Homo sapiens: one gene and its partner. The protein of the gene in region 2 purifies or fractionates together with the protein of the main gene of each other region. This does not show direct contact. Each region holds a gene or a part of one and is shown on either strand. Other genes may lie near its edges. The genes, in order: RRP15 and NOPCHAP1.

Region 1 (3,829 bases), on a different chromosome or scaffold from region 2:
GACTACAATCTTAAGAACCTAGTTAGAGTTGCATCTTAACTTCCATAAATCTGAGTAGCTCAAGGATAACTCAGAGGTAGGGGCTATCATCTTACCCTTTATCATACTTGATATCATCAACCACTGTTATTTTTTCACCTGAGGTGATTTACTGACTAGGAAGACTGTTTTTCTGTTTTGGGGTTTTTATTGTTTTAAGACTACAAGCTTAAGAACCGAGTATATATTGTATCTAAACTTCCAACAAGGTATCAAGTCAATAAATTTGAGTAGTTCAGGGATAACTCAGGTAGGGCCATCACCTTCCCCTCTATAACACTTGTCATTTATATATTACTTAAAATGCAGACTGTAGCACTTTACCTTCTGTGATACTGTGAAATATCTATTTGGTCAACTCCTAAAATCCTTGGAATCTCCAAAGGAGTATCTTCTTGTATGCTAATGATTGAGGGCTGGTAGCCCCAAGGCAGCTTCAGGATCAGGGCTGGTCACCAGATGCACCAAGACAGGAATAGAAGTTTGGGACTTTCAGCTCCATTCCCCAACCTCTGGGAAGGGAGGGAAGCTGAAAGTTAAATGAGTCACCTCGATGATTTAATCAACCATGCTTATGTAATGAAGTCTCCATAAAACATTAAAAAAAAAACAGGGTTCAGAGAGCTTCTGGATAGCCGAACTCCTGGAGGTTCCTGCAGGACGGCACACCCAGGGAGGGCATGGAAGCTCCACACACCTTCACCCTATACTTCACCCTATGCATCTGTTCATCTGTATCCTCTGTAATATGCTTTATAATAAACCCATAAACTTAAGTGTCTCCCTGAGTTCTGTGAGTTGCTCTAGAAAATTAATCGAACCCAAAGGGAAGATTATGGGAACCCCAATTTTAAGTCAGTTGGTCAGAAGTTCCAGAGGTCTGGATTTAGGACTGGTATCTGAAGGGTTTGGGCAGTCTTATGAAGCTGAGCCCTCAGTCTGTGGGGTCTGACACTACCTCCAGGTAGATAATGTTGAAATGAATTGGAGAGCAAACAGGTGGTATCCACTGCAGAATTGATTACTTGCTTAGGGTGTGAGAATGAATCCATACACATTTAATCACAGAAGTCTTCTGTGATGATTGTTGCTGTTGAGTGGCTGAGTGAGAAAATAGAGAAAAGCACACTGAGTGGTGTTTTTTCCACATTCACCGGCTGTATATCTCTAATTCGTGATCCCCTTCAATTTTATTATGATCAAATTTCAAATCGTACTGACAGTACTGCAATTCACCAAAAATTCAATCTTAGTCATTTTGCTATTATTCAAGTTGATATATATAACTGCTAATTTCACCTCCATGATAATCTAGTATATGAGAAAAGAGTATTAAAAAAATCATGTTAAGAGAAATTTCCAATTTATTCAGTGAATAAATGGATATCAAGTACTACACCATGAATCAGGCTCTATGTCAAACTGAGATATAGCTGTCCTCACAGTAACAAGGTCTCTGTCCCCATGGAACTTAGGAAACTTCTGCAGTCTAACAAACAATACTTGAGTTTTGAGTTTTGTTCTCATGAAAGCACACTCTTCTACTTTTCTTATACAATATGTGAAAAGAAATTAAAGCCAGAAAAATAAAATTCAAACAACATATGGGTTATATCTGGGTTTTCTATGAAACTCAAGTAGCGTCTTACTAAAGGAAGTTTTTCAAATGTCGATATAGGGCACATCCCTATCAATTTTTATAATCCAGTTAAAATTCAAAGATAAGTGCCTGATTCAGTTTCCTGATAAAACAAGTCAGTACTCTTTAAATATATCTGTAATTTACACACTGATTCCTCATAGGTCTGAAGACTCTGCCTTTATAGTTTCTCAGTACTATCATATAAAAGTTTTTGATAACTTAATAGTTTAACCAAGACCACATGTATACAACTACCTGACTAGAAAATCCACCTCCATGGGTCACCTTTACAGAAATACTTAATTTCATGAGCGGAAAACAGCAATTTCTTATATTAAATAGCAAATTCTGAGTTAAGCCAAAGAAGAATTGTCCCATCTTTAACCAACAGACCTATATTACTAACTGTATTAAATAAAGGACTCTTTAACCAGGCATGGTGGTGTGCACCTATGGTCCCAATTATTAAAAGGCTGAGGCAGGAGGATTGCTTGAGCATGGGAATTGGAGGTTACAGTGAGCTATGATCATGCCACACTGCACACCAGCATGGGCAACATACCAAGACCCTGTCTCAAAAAAAAAAAAATAAGAAAAAAAAGTTTTAAAATAATAAGTAAAATATATGATCCTTTATTATTTATCTATATTGCAGAGATAGGAAAATTTGTAAAAGACAAAGTGGAGGAGACATTTAAGTTGAAACCTAAAGGATAGAGAAAAGCTGGTTAAGAGAAAGTAAAGAATAAAAAGAGTATGCCAATAGAGTACCATAAGCACGACTAGAAAGACAGAGAGCAGACTGTATTCCAGAAACTAGTTCAGAATGCTATGACCCTAGTCGTCTAGGGAATGACAAGATGTGAGCCTGAGAGGCAAGCAGTGGTCAGATCACACAGGTTGGGTATGCAGACTGTTGCCAGTTTACAAGGAGATTCAGTCAGTCAATCACTGTTATTTGTGGATTCTGTATTTGAGAATTCACTAACTCAGTAAAATGTATTCGTAACCCCAAATCAATACTCATGGCACTTTTGCAGTCATTCACAGACATGCTTAGAGCAGTGAAGGGTTGGAGTCTCCCTACATGCACACTCCTAGCTGAGGCTGAAGGAGACACTCTGCCTTGTTTTAACTTTCTCATTGTAAACTGGTGTTCTTCCTACAGCTATTTAGTGCCACATTTTTTCCATTTCTGTGCTTTTTCTTGGCTACAGCAATGTTTAAAATGGCCCACAAGCATAATGCTGACGGGTTGTGCAGTGTCCCTAAGCACAAGGATGCAATGTGCCTCTCAGAGAAAATATGTGTTGAATAAGCTTTTTTCAGGCACGTTATTGGCCATCCATGAGTTCAAATGTTAATGAATCAACAAAGTATATTAAATATAACTATTATTATCCACTTCCTCTAACAGTACAGTATGCCCAAAATGTATGGTGCTATGAGTTTGCATTAAAGTTTGTTGTTTGAAAAATTGAAGGCTGGGTGCAGTGGCTCATGCCTGTAATCCCAACACTTCGGGAGGCCGAGGCAGGAGGATCACTTGACCCCAGGAGTTTGGGAACAGCCTGGGCAACAGAGTGAGACCCATCTTTACAAAAAATGAAAAATTAGCTGGACATGATGGCACGCACTTGTGGTCCTAGCTACTTTGGAGGCTGAAGTGGGAGAACTGCTTGAGCCTGGGAGGTTAAGACTGCAGAGAGCTCTGATTATGCCACTGCACTCCAGCCTAGGCAACAGACCAAGACTTTGTCTTAAAAAAAAAGGGGGTGGGGAGTGGGGGGCCAGCCGCGGTGGCTCACGCCTGTAATCCCAACACTTTGGGAGACCAAGGTGGGTGTATCATGAGGTCAAGAGATCCAGACTATCCTGGCCAACATGTTGAAACCCCGTCTCTACTAAAAATACAAAAATTAGCCGGGCGTGGTGGCACGTGCCTGTAGTACCAGCTACTCGGAAGGCTGAGGCAGAAGAATTGCTTGAACCTGGGAGGCGGAGGTTGTGGTGAACCGAGATAGCACCACTGTACTCCAGCCTGGCAACAGAACGAGACTCCATCTCAAAAAAAAAAAAAAAAAAAAAAGGAAAATTCAATGATTTCTTTCTTTTTTTTTTCCTTTTTCTTTAATCTCAGAGTTTTGT
Region 2 (3,829 bases):
ATTATATATTCCAACTGAGTGAAAGGCACTATGCTAGGCAGTGAGAGAAATACAAATGAAAATAAGACTCAACCTCTTTTCTTACATTTTTTTTTTTTTTTTTTTTTTTGAGACAGTCTGTCTCTCTGTCACCCAGGCTGGAGTGCAGTGGCATGATCTTCGCTCACTCCAACCTCCACCTCCTGGGTTCAAGCGATTCTCCTGCCTCAGCCTCCCAAGTAGCTGGGATTACAGATATGCACCACCGCATCTGGCTCATTTTTATATTTTTAATAGAGACAGGGTTTCTCCATGCTGGCCAGGCTTGTCTGGATTCCTGACCTCAGGTGATCCACCCACCTTGGCCTCCCAAAGTGCTGGGATTACAGGTGTGAGCCACCATGCCTGGCCTTTTCTTACATTTCTTATCACGGTCATGGATACAGGCAGAGTAACACAAACTATCCTGCTAGGCAGTTTTTAAAAATAAGTACCATATTTGATGCGCAATTAAAATGTTATTGGAACAGATGGGAGATTTATTCAGAATGAGATTTTTGCTTCAAAAGCCATTACACCTAATTTTCGGATCTGTAACTGTCACAGAGCCATAGAAAGACGGTACGCCACAAGTTTGAAGAGAACATTTCACTCATTTTAGGAGTGCAACTGCTCTCCAAATGCCAAACTGCCATCAACTCACACCTAAGCATCAGGGTAAGCAAAGAGTTGGACAACCAAAGCACAACAGTGATGCACTTTCCACACACTGTAGGGCAAACTGCTTACAAACAAAACAACTTTTATATAAGGCCATAACATACTGATATGTTTTGGCTGTGTCCCCACCCAAATCTCATCTTGAATTGTAGCTCCCATAATTCTCACGTGTTGTAGGAGGGACCTGGTGGGAGGTAACTGAATCATCGGGGCGGGTCTTTCCTATGCTGTTCTCATGTGAATAAGTCTCACCAGGTCTGATGGTTTTATAAAGGGGAGCTCCCCTACACAAGCTCTCTTGCCTGCTGCCATGTAAGACATGACTTTCTACCCCTTTACCCTCTACCATGATTGTGAGGTCTCCTCAGCCATGTGGAACTGTGAGTCCATTAAACCTCCTTTCCTTTATAAATTACCCAGTCTCGGGTATGTCTTTATTAGCAGTGTGAGAACAGACTAATACGCATACATACAATAAAGTCCTCAAAAGTTACATTTACAACTCCATTAGCCTTTACATATGTATGAGTGGTGGTAACTCTTAGACTAGTAGCTAACACAGAAAGGGCTCAGTAAGTACCAGCTACTGTTGCATCTGCCAATTTGACAGGTGAAGAATGCAATCCTGATTTCATTTGCATTTCTCTGATAAATGGAGTTGACCCTTTTTCTGTGAATTACTTCTTCATTTCCTATAGTCTTTTCACTACTGAGATATCCGTCATTTTTTTCTAAAATGTAAAAGCCCATGATATATTAATGACACTCTGTCATGTTTCAGATATTTTCCCCAGTATTTCCCTTATCTTTTGAATTTATTTGCAACACACTAGTTTTTAATATTTATGGGGATGAATTTTCCACTCTTTTCCTTTGTAATTTTAGGCTTTGATGTTATGCTTTTTAAAAAAAAAAAAAAAAACCTTTCTTGACTATTTTACTAAATATAAACCTGCATTTCGGTATGGAACTCTTATAATTTCTTTTTTTACATTTAAATCCTTAATCCATATATAATTTATCTTTGCATATGATATGAGGCTAGAGAATCTAATCTTGTTTGAAATAGCTGGTTCTGACATTATTTATGAATAATTCATCCATTTTACCAGATTATACAAGTAGTCTTATCCATGGGGGATACATTCCAAGACCCCCCAGAGGATGCCTGAAACATTTGATAGAACAGAACCCTATACACACTGTTTTCAATCTGAGAATCCAGATGGCTGCTAAGTGACTAAACGGTGGGTAACATATACAGCGTGCATAAGCAGGACAAAAGGACAATTCACATCCCAGGCGAGACGAAGTGGGACAGCCTAAGATTTCATCACATTATTCAGCAACTTAAAACTTATGTATTATTTCTGGAATGTTCCATTTAATATTTTTATATTGTGATTGACTATGGGTAGCTGAAACCATGGAAAGCAAAACTGACAATAACAACTGTACTTGAAATTACATCTTCATATTCTCCTGCCTGGAACCGTCTATGATAGCTTAAAGTCTCCTGTATACCTTCATGCATCCATTTAATCCATTTATTATCATTATTCCATGCCTACTGTGCACCACACACTATGCTAAGTAGTGAAACAGACAAATGCAACTGTTCACACAAGGTAGCATAGCATCCAGTGGAAGAAAATCTTTAAATAAGTACCTATGCCAATAACTCATCACGGCTGTGTACAGTTCTGGTGTACTCTTTCCAGCTGAAAAAATCTTGTTTCAGATCTGCTCATTTCTTTACACATTTAGCGAGTGAGTCACAGTCAAGGAGAGCTGGTTCCAATTTCCAATAAGAAAGATCAGAAAGGACCTGGATAATTATCTTCACAGCAATCACAAGAAGACTCAGGCCAATGTGAAGAATTGGAAAGAACAGAATTCAAAGAAAACCCGAAAACATTAGCAGACAAAGTTCCATCAGCTCTGCCCACTCACAGATAGTCCTTAAATTCTCAGGCCTCTTTCCTGAGCAAAAGTCAGGCTCATGGCAGATGAGATCCCAAATAAACTTAATAAAACCAAGAATAGGGCAGAAAGGCAACTCCAGCCTGAGGTCATTTTGACCTTTGGAAGGGAAAACCAGCTGTCGCCTTTCTTTGTACTATGCCCTCCAAATTTTGCTGTGATGTCCCTATTTTCTACATTTGATAGGTTTCAGGCTGTGGGCAACTGTGTGGAACAGTTTTAATAGCTGAGATAAGAAGTTTTGCTTTACAAAAAAAAAAAAATCAACTAAAAACTGATCTTTCCAACCAGTAAATTCTGCATGCATTGTATGACTGCACTGTCACCAACAGTGATTACACTACAAGCATCAGTTTTCCAACTCAAACTAGAAAGGAATTCTTAAAATAAAAATAGGTATGTTTGAGAATAGCTAAATACAGGTGACACTTGAACAACACAGATTTGAACTGTGTGGGTCCACTTATACATGGATTATTTTCAATAAATATATTTTTAACATTTTTGGAGATTTGTGACAATTTGAAAAAATTCACAGATGAACTGCATGGCTTAAAAAAAATTAAAAAGTTAGGTACGTCAAAAATGCATTAAATATATGTAGATACCAGTCTATCTCATCATTTCTACCATAAAAAATATATAAATCTATTATAAAAAGTTAGAATTTATCAGCACTTACCCACACAAACACTTATAGACGGTACCTAGTACCATTTGCAGTTGAAAGAAATACAAACAAATGCAAAGACACAGTATTAAATCATAACTGCATAAAATTAACTCTAGTACTGTAATAACTTTGTGGTCACCTCCTGTTGCTATTGCGATGAGCTCGTGTTGCAAGTATCTACTCACGATACCATGTGACACTAATCATCTCTGTGTGAACAGTTCCTCTCTGCAGTAAATTGCCTATCACAGTAAAAAGTGATCTCTCGGCTGGCTGGCAAGATGGCCAAATAGGAACAACTCCGGTCTGCAGCTCCCAGCGAGATCAACGCAGAAGGCAAGCGATTTCTGCATTTCCAACTGAGGTACCCAGCTCACCTCATTGGGACTGGTTAGACAGTGGGTACAGCCCATGGATGGGGAGCAGAAGAAGGGTGGGGTGTTGCCTCACCTGGGAAGCACAAAGCGTTAGGGA

The links.
Region 1: the proteins of NOPCHAP1 (region 2) and RRP15 fractionate together in Homo sapiens (co-fractionation; one large-scale study listed by BioGRID). This does not show direct contact.

Annotation. Positions count from the first base shown.
Region 1 is NC_000001.11:218,291,470-218,295,298, reverse strand, and holds part of RRP15 (RRP15-like protein), read right to left. Parts: intron 1-3,829.
Region 2 is NC_000012.12:105,013,779-105,017,607, reverse strand, and holds part of NOPCHAP1 (NOP protein chaperone 1), read right to left. Parts: 3' UTR 1-3,829. UniProt on the Homo sapiens protein: Client-loading PAQosome/R2TP complex cofactor that selects NOP58 to promote box C/D small nucleolar ribonucleoprotein (snoRNP) assembly. Acts as a bridge between NOP58 and the R2TP complex via RUVBL1:RUVBL2.